3 separate regions of the Homo sapiens genome follow, and regions 1 and 3 are each reported to be linked to region 2. Evidence: microRNA targets listed by miRTarBase, many of them from high-throughput screens and not tested one by one. Region 2 holds a microRNA gene; each other region holds the end of a gene's coding sequence.
What was found. Region 2 holds the annotated microRNA hsa-miR-5685 (ACAGCCCAGCAGUUAUCACGGG, at 1,731-1,752, opposite strand). A microRNA usually pairs through its seed, bases 2 to 8, with sites in the 3' UTR of a target mRNA and lowers its output. Matches are read on the target gene's strand: a 7mer-m8 pairs with bases 2 to 8, a 7mer-A1 pairs with bases 2 to 7 and ends in A, and an 8mer does both.

Region 1 (3,000 bases), not on the chromosome of region 2:
CCCCAAAAAACTCTGTATCCATTAAGCAGTTATTTTTCATTTTCCCCCTAGACCCTGGAAACCACAGGAACATTAACTTTTAAGTTATTCTAAGGAATTTTAGAGACATAGATATTAAAACAGACAGATTTCAGATGGCTGTGCAACTGCTTCCAGTCATACAGAAAAGAGTTTTTTTTCAATAATCTCAATTCCAATTTTTATTAGCCATTCTATGTACATTGATACCAAGTCCTGAAAACTGATAAAAACATGTCCAGAATTTCTTTTTTTCCTTTTCTGAGAAAGGGTCTTGCCCTCTCACCTAGGATGGAGTGTAGTGGTGCAATCACAGCTCACTGCAGCCTCAGAATCTCCCAGTCTCAAGTGATCCTCTCATGTCAGTCTCCTGAGTAGCTGGGACTACAGGCACATGCCATCACACCCAACTAATTTTTTTATTTTTTGTAGAGATGAGGGCTATGTTGCCCAGGTTAGTCTTGAACTCCTGGACTGAAGCAATCCTCCTGCCTCAGCCTCCCAAAGTGTTGGGATTATAGGCATGAGCCACAGGACCTGGCCCATGGTTTCTTATACAGTCAATGTACAAATGCTCATTTATATTTTGCACAATAATGAAGATAAAAATAACAATTATAGCAACATACAAATATGTACAAAGATTCCAGACAGACTTTGTTTTTTGGCTTATAACAATGTGTAGATACTACACAAAGAATGAGGATGTAATTTTCATTTACAAGCAAAATGTGACCAAAATCCCTTTTCTTCTTAAAATTGAAAAATGAAATTCTTGAGAATACTAATTAGTGACGGCCAAATCTTAGACTATTTTAAATTAGCCATGGTTAAACATAGGTGAGTTAAACATTGTGCCTTTCCAAAATTAAGGTTTGCAGTTAGAAACATAAACATTTGATAAAACTTCTCAAAATTAATTATGAGTGGCTTATTCATGTCCTTTGGATTCCAGACACACACTAGAAAAAGTAAACGTTAAAGAGGTGATATTTTGGAAAGCATCCCTAGTACTGAAAAGCATCCCTAGCACTGAAAAAAGCATCCCTAGTACTGAAAAGCATCCCTAACACTGAAAAAAGCATCCCTAGTACTGAAAAACATCTTCAGGAGTACTCAGTACTCCCTAGTACATCCCTAGTACTGAAAAAAGCATCCCTAATACTGAAAAGCATCCCTAGTACTAAAAAACATCTTCAGGAGTACCCAGTGGTCAAACACTAGCAGGAAACTCATGATGCACTAACAATACTGAGAACAAAGTGTGGGAAGTAATAAGCAGCTATTTTACTGATGTATTAAATATATTAGAATTATGAGGCATGAGATGATATTTATGTGATTTTTAAAAGGTTTAAAATATTCTTAGGGACTCAATTAGATATTGAGAATGACTGATAACTATGATCTCAAAAACAGTATATCACACATAATCATGGTGTTACCTTACTAATAGGAATTTAGTTTTTAATAACTAACTGAATTTTATTTTACTGGCTTCAGAAGCAGCTGCCTATTTTGAGAACTACATGAGTTAATACGATCATATATAATTAAGTTAATGTCACAGAAACCAAAATGATAATAGTTTACAAAAGAAGAAAGTGCCCCATTTATTGGGTTGTGACATCAGGCTGAGATGGCTTAGGGCTGGAAAGCAAGGATGAGTGTAGCACTGGGGCTCAGGTACAAATCTGTTTATAAAGCTCAAGGAGAGAAAAGGCACGAGAAGGGGTGAGACAACTCTGAATGGCGGTGGTACCTGGATGTGGAATTACCACAGTGGGCCAGAGACAGGATGGTATATAACCCTCTGGCCAGGTACTATGGGAACCAACCCCTTCCTTCAATATTAAATTAAGAATACAAATATCTCAAAGCATGCTATCAAAAGTAGATTATTTATCCTCATATTACAGAACACAGAAGGAGACATTTATTTTTAAAAGAGAGCTAAAAAGTTATGGGGTTTCTCCTTATTTCATCTTGAAAACTCAAGGAGCAAACATTAAAAAAAATTCCCTATTTATATATATATATATATTTTTTGAGATGGAGTTTTACTCTTGTTGCCCAGGCTGGAGTGCAGTGGCGCAACCTTGGCTCACCACAACCTCCGCTTCCTGGGTTCAAGCAATTCTGCCTCAGCCTCCCAAGTAGCTGGGATTACAGGCATGCGCCACCACACCCGGCTAATTTTGTATTTTTAGTAGAGATGGGGTTTCTCCATGTTGGTCAGGCTGGTCTCGAACTCCTGACCTCCGGTGATCTGCCCGCCTTGGCCTCCCAAAGTCCTGGGATTACAGGCGTGAGCCACAGCGCCTGGCCGGACTATTAGTATTTTTAAAAGGCACTTAAAATATTCCTTTCCAATCCAACTCAAAATACATCTCTGTCAACTACATTTTGGATAAATATTTTAAAAAGCACATAATTTTTGTGCAATTTTTTCTTATAACCCAGTGATATTTATCATCTATAGGGCTAAAAGGTTTGAAGGACAGAGCTCCAACTTTCTGCAGAACAATCTGAAAGTGCTTTTATCATAGAAACAAGAACAACATTAATGATTTGCTCTTTCACTGACAACATCCTGTAGTCGTTTCAGTAAAACGTCATCATTTTCTTGACAGACGCGTTTGGCAGGGGATTCTGCATCACTATCGATGGCTATTACTCGCTTCTTGGTTCTCTGCTCACCTTGCCTTATCATGTTGTTGATATCTTTCAAACTCTGTGCAGAAATAGAGAACGTGTGTGAGTAAAAGAGGGAGAGGGGAAATGGCAGCAAACAACCAAGCTAATTGTTTTTTCCTGTGCTCTATCCTCTATCCAAATCTTAACACTGGGATAAGGACTCTTTTTAAAACTTAGAACAACCTAATAAGGGATGGCTTGAACTAATCTTTTCAGGTGGTTTAAAAATTAGATTTAAGGCCAGGTGTGGTGGCCTGTAATACCAGCACTTTGGGAGGCCAAGAT
Region 2 (4,624 bases):
CATGACAGAGCTCCTACAGGGAACCTCAACAGGTGGAAGAGGAATGGTGGGCCTAGGTCAAGTGGAGTGGCACCGAGTGAGCAGCTTCTTGTGTGTATACCTGGTTTATGCTTCAGGAGTGAAAAAAGTTCACCACCCAATACTGAGGTTTGAGTTCTTTAACTAAACTCCAAAGACAACAGGTGTTTTATACATGGATTCCCCTGCCCCATTTATGGGTGGGGAGAGGGCAAATGGAACGTTAGGTTAACTAGTTTAAAGAGTCAAGGCAATCCCACCTGGATCCCTTCTTAAAAAGGAAGCCTGTGTCCAAGAGTCCCTTCTGCTGAGTTAACAAGACCCCTTCAACCCGTTCTCATCTTTGGGATTGAGGCGCCTGCAGAATTACAAGAGAGGATTTGTCCTCCTCTTCTCCAGAGAGCTACCTTGATTTTCCCCACCCCTGCCAAGATAGACATTCATGAATGCAGTCATCCACACCTCCACAAGTGCACACACACCAGCCATCCTATTTTAAAACAGACAAAAGCAAAACCAACCCAGGATGTCTCTGGACACCATAAACCAAAATAGTCGCTGGAAAAAACAGTGATGGTAGGTTCCAGATTTAAGATTCATAAAATGGTAACATTTCCAAAAATATCTCTGATGAAGACAGTCATATGTTAGTACGTTTTTAATTTTGCCAAGAGAGGCTGCTGTTTTAAAAAAGAGGATCTTTTACATTGCACGAATTTATCTTCATGAAAACCTTACTGCGTTGTCCTTATTTTTCTTATTCGCGGTTGTCCCACAAACATTTCATCAAGAAGCACCAGTTTCCTTTCTGTACCCTCAAGCCACAGGAGGTAGTTCCTTGGTTCCCTCCTGGGGTAGAAAGAAGGGCAGCAAAAAGAGCACTGTGCTAAGCTGGCCCTTCCCTCTCCACCCCAGGTCTCAAGAGTGCATGCCAGCTTCCTCCCCCGACCTCCAACGCACTTTGGATTCAGACTTTGTGTCTTGCTTCTTAGGACTTCTGATCAGCCTGCATGGATCCTGCTTGACTGGCCATGACTTTAGAGAGTAGTAGAAGACAGAAAAGTTAATACACCTTCTAATGAATTACCATGTGGGTACTGATCTTTCAAAGATAGTATAGAATAGTTTGTTGTGTGGTCTGTTTTTAAAGTCTGTTAACATGAAGCTACAGAAATTTGGAACAGACCCTTTAGAGATAATTTAGTCCAACCTCATCATTTTATAGTAAAAACAACAAAAGCCCACAGGAATTAGCTGGCTTGCCCCAGGTGCTGGGCCTGGCACTCAAGCCTTCCTCCTAATTCCATGGCTCTTCATCATGAACTGATGCTTCTCCCATGCTAAATCCTTGTGCTCTTCTTTGGCCATGAAAAGCCTGTTAACTCTCAGTGCTTTTTTATGTGTAGAAGGTGACAAAGCAGAAGGAAAATGGCAAGAAGAAAGATAACCAAAGAAAAATCAGATAGAAGGCAGGATACCCAGCGTGAGTGCAGCGGCTACACCCATTTTTTGCCATTTATTTCTGATGTCAGACCAGGTGGAAATATCACAAGGTGTCTTCAGATCCTTGTAATCACCTCTTGTTCCCTGGGGGGGAATCTGTGTTGCTCGCCAAGCTAAACTCTTGTGTTCAAGGACAGGGAACACAAGAATTGGGGTGCAGACTCTACATCACAGCCCTGCAGTTATCACGGGCCCATTGAGGGGAGGGGCCCGTGATAACTGCTGGGCTGTGATGTAGAGCCTGTACCCCAGTTCTGGGGTCCTCTCTGTGACAGCATAGTGCCTACTGTGCTGCAAGTGATTCTGAGGCATGGGCACTTGTGAAGCCTTCAGTTTGTGAAGCCTAATTCATGGATCCGGAGGATTGTACATACAACAACAGGAAATAATGAAGATAAAGTTGGACTAAATTATCCCTGAGCCTACAGCAGTGGTTCTCAAAGTATGGTTTCCACATCAGCAGCATCAGTATCACCTGGACCTTGTTAGACATACAAATTCTAGGCCCCCAGACCTACTGGAACAGAAACACCCCCAGGGACCCATGTTTTACTAACTCACCCCTCAGGTAATTCTGGTGCTGCACACTCAAGTTTGAGGAGCACTGGCTTAGGGAAAGCAGCCAGAGGCTTCTGTGGGGCAGAGCAGGGAGCCTGTGATTGGCTTGGTCTGGGCACTTGTGCTAGGACCAAGGGGGTGACGGGCTGAGGGTTCTGCAGAGAAGCAGCGTGGTAAAGGAAGGTCTCTGAGGGCAGCAGCCTGGGAGTGACTTTTAAGCCCACCCCTTAGGAAATTGAGACTCAAGTCATTAAAGCTTTCCTTTTGTTTACACTTGCCTACAATTGTTTTTTCTCAGAGCAAACTTGGCTCAGCACAGCCCAAGGTAAATTATCACAGATTCTGCAACTAATAAAGTTCAATGAGGACTTTACATGGCTCAGATGCTGTTGGTGACTGGCTCTTTCTTCTTTTTTAGTTAGTAACAGGAGTATGGGAAGGCAAATACAACTTCTTCTGTCAGGGCACACGCACCGCAGGAGAATCAGATATGAAGGTACTGTCTCTTTTTCAGAAACTTTATTATTATAAGTGTTGAGTTTTTAAAAATAAATTGTATAAAATACAAAATGGCCCATAACCTCACTGCCCAGGCAATCCCTGTTGATATTTTTAAAAGAATAAAAAAGGCAATATATACACATCAAATTAAAATTTGAATGTGAAAGGTATAAAATAAAACCTAAAGCATCCCCCTCTGTAAAAATAACTCCGGTTAACAATTGGCAGGAAAAATCACATGCAGTCAGTATGTTATATTTACACAATCAGGATCATAAGAGCAATGTCTTAAATTTTTAAAATCATTCATCCAAGTACTTTTTTCCGAGTAGTGGTGTTAAAAATAAAATCTGACTTCCACTCATGAGGTTTGTTTTAAATCACAGGCCAACAGTCGCAGCTCAGCATGGGCAGTCATCTCCTTAGAGCACTTGTTTGACATGTTTAATTGGGCAGAGACCTGACACTGCAGGTTCTGATTCCTTTTCTTCTGTGTCACTTATCAGGTCGGCTGCTCCATGTTAGTCCCTGAAATCAATAGCGTTTTTCAGATGGTTTTCCTTTGCTAATGGCTGTGCAGGCTGCTTCCAGAGGGAATAGGCAGACTTCAAGGTTTTGAACCTTGAGCCTCATGTTTTTGTTAGTCTCAAAGAGTGTCAGGGACCCTTTCAAAAATATTCCCTGTAGTCATTTCAAACCCCTCCAGCTGTCCCAACCCAATCATGTTCTTTGGTTAAAGGTACTTGGAGAGTGACCATAGCTCCCAGCCACTGATGGACATTAAGAGCTCTTGGGGCACTCGGGCTTCTCCGAGTTGACATCAGATTTTTGGATATTAGTGAAACATGTCAGAGGTGATATTCCAGAGAAGCCGTGAGGATAAGCCTTAAATCTTTGACCCTTTCCTCTTAGATTATCCGTGTCCTCTGGTGGTACTACTTCTCCAAACTCATAGAATTTATGGACACTTTCTTCTTCATCCTGCGCAAGAACAACCACCAGATCACGGTCCTGCACGTCTACCACCATGCCTCGATGCTGAACATCTGGTGGTTTGTGATGAACTGGGTCCCCTGCGGCCACTGTAAGTATTAGAGACGGGGACTTGGGGAACAGGTGTGAGCAGGGAGGAGAGTTGAAACTAAGGCTTTCAGAAAAGGTGCTGTTTCTGTAAATGTCTAGGTCAGGCTTTCAGCTTTGTGTTCAAGTTGCTTTTAATGATAGTTTATGTACCTATGCACACAAAACCCTTTTTTAGTTAAGTGAACTTTCTGTGCTGATTGGGTGAGATGAGGGAGATACCACTGGGGACATATTAAGGAATAGGTACAATATTCTCTGACTTAGAGGGCAACTTTCCAGGTTCTTTCTGGTCCTTCTGTATGGTGTGGAAGGTTTGAGACGGGCAGGTGAGGAAAATAGGATCACACTGTTGCATGAGTACCAGGGAGCAAGGCTCATTTTGAAATACAGCTTTAGCTGTCATGCATTAGGAAGTCTCCACATGTTCTAACAACCCTCATATTCCCTGAAGCATGGTGATCAAGGTGTCTTCTATAACGAGCACCAAAACTTGATATAAATTTTCTAAGGTTGTACTTGGTTTTTGGAAAGCTTGTAGTCCAAAGTTTCTTATAATTTTCAGAGATTGCCACCTTCAGATTCAGCCTGGGAGTTTTAGCAAATGTCTCAGTCAAAAGTCCCGTCATCCAAACACTGAAGAATTTAACTGAGAACCTATGGGTCTATTTATGGATATTTTTTTCTCTGGGATAGCACTGCCCTTGATTACCTGAGCCTGCTAAGATTCACAGTGTCATGGAATTCCAGAGCTAGGAAAAAAAAAAAGCTTTCCAAATACAGATCCTTTGGGTTTGGGAGGAAACTAAGACCACAGAAAGGTGGGTAGAGTTGGGGCTTTCTGCTCTTCCTCCCACTGTCAGAGCTCATGATGGTGGATTAACTGACCTAACTTTCTAATAGAAACAGCCCCTCCCTACATTTGAAGAGTGCTTTAAATTTTCAGAGAACTTTCAGGAGGACA
Region 3 (3,000 bases), not on the chromosome of region 2:
AAAGCCCCATTCAAACATCAGGGAGCGGTTAACTCTTCATTATTAATATTTAGGTTTCCTGTGTGGATATTATTATTTGCAAGAAGTGTTTAATCCTAATTTTAGTTTTTCCCCATCAGCCATTACATTTTTGAAGGGCCTCTCTTTCCCACAGGTCAGCGTTTATCTCAGTAATGGTAACTATTTATTACTTATTTTATTTTTTGAGACGGAGTCTCGCTCTGTCGCCCAGGCCGGAGTGCAGTGGCACAATCTTGGCTCACTGCAGGCTCCAACGGTAACTATTTAAATTTGTATTAATCTAAGAAAAAACACAAGAATAGGTTTGCTGCCTTTCAACCTCCTAACCAAAAGTCACAATGCATTCTGAAGCCATATATATATATATATATATATATATATATATATATATATACATGAGACAAATATGTATATTTGAGACAGGGTCTCACTCTGTTGTTCAGGCTGGAGTGCAGCGGCATGATCATTGCTCACTGCAGCCTTGACTTCCTGGGCTTAATAGATCCTCCCATCTCAGGCTCTTCAGTAGCTGGGACTACAGGCATACACCACCAAGCCCAGCTAATATGTGATTATTAAATTACCCTCTGCCTTAACTATTTATTGCTTTATGTTGTGAGTAATGAACAACTGCCGTTCAGGGTATCTGAGACATGAGACATTAGCCTCAGTCCCCACCTCTTAAGTTTCAAATGACTTCACCTTAAACATTCACCATCCTCCCACTTACAATATCTCTGGCCTACTCTGCCCTCAAGGTAGTTATGTTACAGAGAGTAACAACTCTGAATTCTTCAGGGCCCTGTAATAACATATGTCATCTTTAGCATCAGTTTGGGGAGTAATACACTTAATGTCCCAATTTGAAACATTTTCTGTCATCCCATTTCATTATATGCACTCACATGCCCCCCACAACAACAAAAAGGCACAGAACAAGAATCTAAACCTCTTCTTATCAACAGTGGGATACTTTTCATAATCACTATACACATTTATTTAGGAACAGTGAGATTCCTTTGAATCTCAACAGTTTCCTAGACATGTAGTCTTTTTTTTTTTAAGTTACCATTTCTGGAATGGCTTCATGTTACATCTCTACAAACTGGCCCACAAAAAAGCAGACTCTAGAGATAATGTTCCCAAAGAAGTCAACAAAGATTCCCAGCCCAGGCCAGGCGCGGTGGCTCACACCTGTAATCCCAGCACTTCGGGACGCTGAGGTGGGTGGATCAGGAGGTCAGGAGTTCAAGACCAGCCTGACCAACATGGTGAAACCCCATCTCTACTAAAAATACAAAAATTAGCTGGGCTAATTTTTGGTGGTGGGCGCCTGTAATCCCGCTACTTGAGAGGCTGAGGCAGGAGAATCGCTTGAACCCAAGTGGCAGAGCATGCAGTGAGCCAAGATCATGCCACTGCACTCCAGCCTGGGCTGGAGCAAGACTGTCTCAAAAAAAAAAAAAAAAAAGAAAAAGAAAAAAAAATCCCAGCCCATGTGGGAACTCTGGAAGGTAGCACAGTATTTCACACTTTGGTATTTCCCCCCCTTTTTTTTAAAGAAGATAAAATATTACAGAGACATTTTCAAAAATCACACCTGAGTTAAACATTTTGCTGGAAAATTCCACATTAAGGAGTTAAGAACATAATGCAAAAAATGGGAAAGGGCTATATACAGGTACTTTGCCACCATCATTGTTGTGTGTTTGCTCTTGTGTTCTTCCTTTTCTGCTGCCAGGAGAAAGGAGAGGGGACAGGATAAAGAGAAACACAGGGAGGAAGGGAAAGAACAAGCACTCCTGAGCCCTAGGCAGACGTGGACAGACAGAAGGGCACCAGCAGGCGTTGCAACATGCCCAGGGCACCCACCAAGGGCAGCTCTTTTACACCTTCTGCAAAAAGGAGGGGACCTGGAGGGCGCAATAATGAATGGATTTGATTGTAGAAAAGGGGGCGAGGTTAAAAAGAAAATGGGGTGAGATGAAGATTCCATCAGAAAACTTAGCTGTACAGAGAAAACATCAAGGCTTTGGTGGAGATATCAGATTCAAATCTTTTCACAGATTTTGGGATCAGTTCAGGGGTTGTGGCCAAGTTCAGAGTCAAAACTATTATCTCCCCTTCTGGTGTTTGGCACCCCAGCCAAATGGCTGTCCCCAGAAGCCCACGGATGAGTTGGAGAATAACAGCAAGAAGTCTTTTCTCTGAAAGACTATTGCCACAGTGAAGCTGGCTAAAATATTTGGAACTAGAAGGCAAGGGCATAGGCAAGGAAGGTGAAAATGGTAAGCTCCTAGGAGGGGCTGTGTATTTCAAGAGCATTAGGAGTCTGCACTTGGTTCAATCACAGTTTGGATCTCCGGAGGCCCTTGCTCTTGAAGAAGACAAGAGTCTGGGTTCATTGATAGTGGAGATTTTCTTCCACTCTTCTGAAGGCAATCTGTCTGTATATAGAAGGCATGATTCCCTTCCTTCCAGGGGGAATACAGGGCCAGCTGGAGTAGGAGAAACTTTTTGGTCTCAGTGGAGGTAGGTGGAATGATTCCATCGGTACCAAGATCTGGAAGGAAGAAAGAAGTCAATCCTAAAGCTAATAATGTGATGGCGTAAGATGGGAATGGGGAGTGACTGCTAGCAGGTACAGGGGCTTTTGCAGGTAGGAGTAATAAAAACATCCTGGAATTAGATAACGCTGATGGTTGCACAACCTTGTGAATATACTAAAAACCACTGAACTGCACACTTTAAAACGGTGAATTTTATGGTATATGAATTATACCTCGAAACAATTTTTTAAAGCTGGTAATGTATATTATATGGTCCTCTTTCTCTCTCTCAGTAGGGGTAGGTGAGGAGCGCCAACGTTTCGGGCTATGCAACAATTGGCCAATAAGAACTGGCTGCCTTGCTGAACCGCCTGGATTTGGACAGCTGGGTTCATCTTTTCTGACGAACTCAGGTCTGTAACCTACACAT

Region 1: miRTarBase lists RBL1 as a target of hsa-miR-5685. The part of its 3' UTR that is shown has no 7-base or 8-base seed match.
Region 3: the mRNA of POU2F3 is a reported target of hsa-miR-5685. Seed matches in the 3' UTR shown: 7mer-m8 at 1,512-1,518 and 7mer-m8 at 1,187-1,193.

What each region holds. Positions count from the first base shown.
Region 1 is chr20:36,996,178-36,999,177 of GRCh38, forward strand. RBL1 (RB transcriptional corepressor like 1) reads right to left here. Exons shown (of 22, transcript NM_002895.5): 22 at 172-2,752. The coding sequence ends at 2,582. Among named protein-coding and RNA genes, the nearest start is that of SAMHD1, 46 kb to the left of the region's middle.
Region 2 is chr6:53,274,130-53,278,753 of GRCh38, reverse strand. It overlaps MIR5685 (microRNA 5685), which reads right to left and starts at 1,761; the gene lies at 1,683-1,761. ELOVL5 (ELOVL fatty acid elongase 5) reads left to right here. Exons shown (of 8, transcript NM_021814.5): 4 at 2,498-2,575; 5 at 3,493-3,664.
Region 3 is chr11:120,317,937-120,320,936 of GRCh38, reverse strand. POU2F3 (POU class 2 homeobox 3) reads right to left here. Exons shown (of 13, transcript NM_014352.4): 13 at 992-2,584. The coding sequence ends at 2,545. Among named protein-coding and RNA genes, the nearest start is that of TLCD5, 5.9 kb to the left of the region's middle.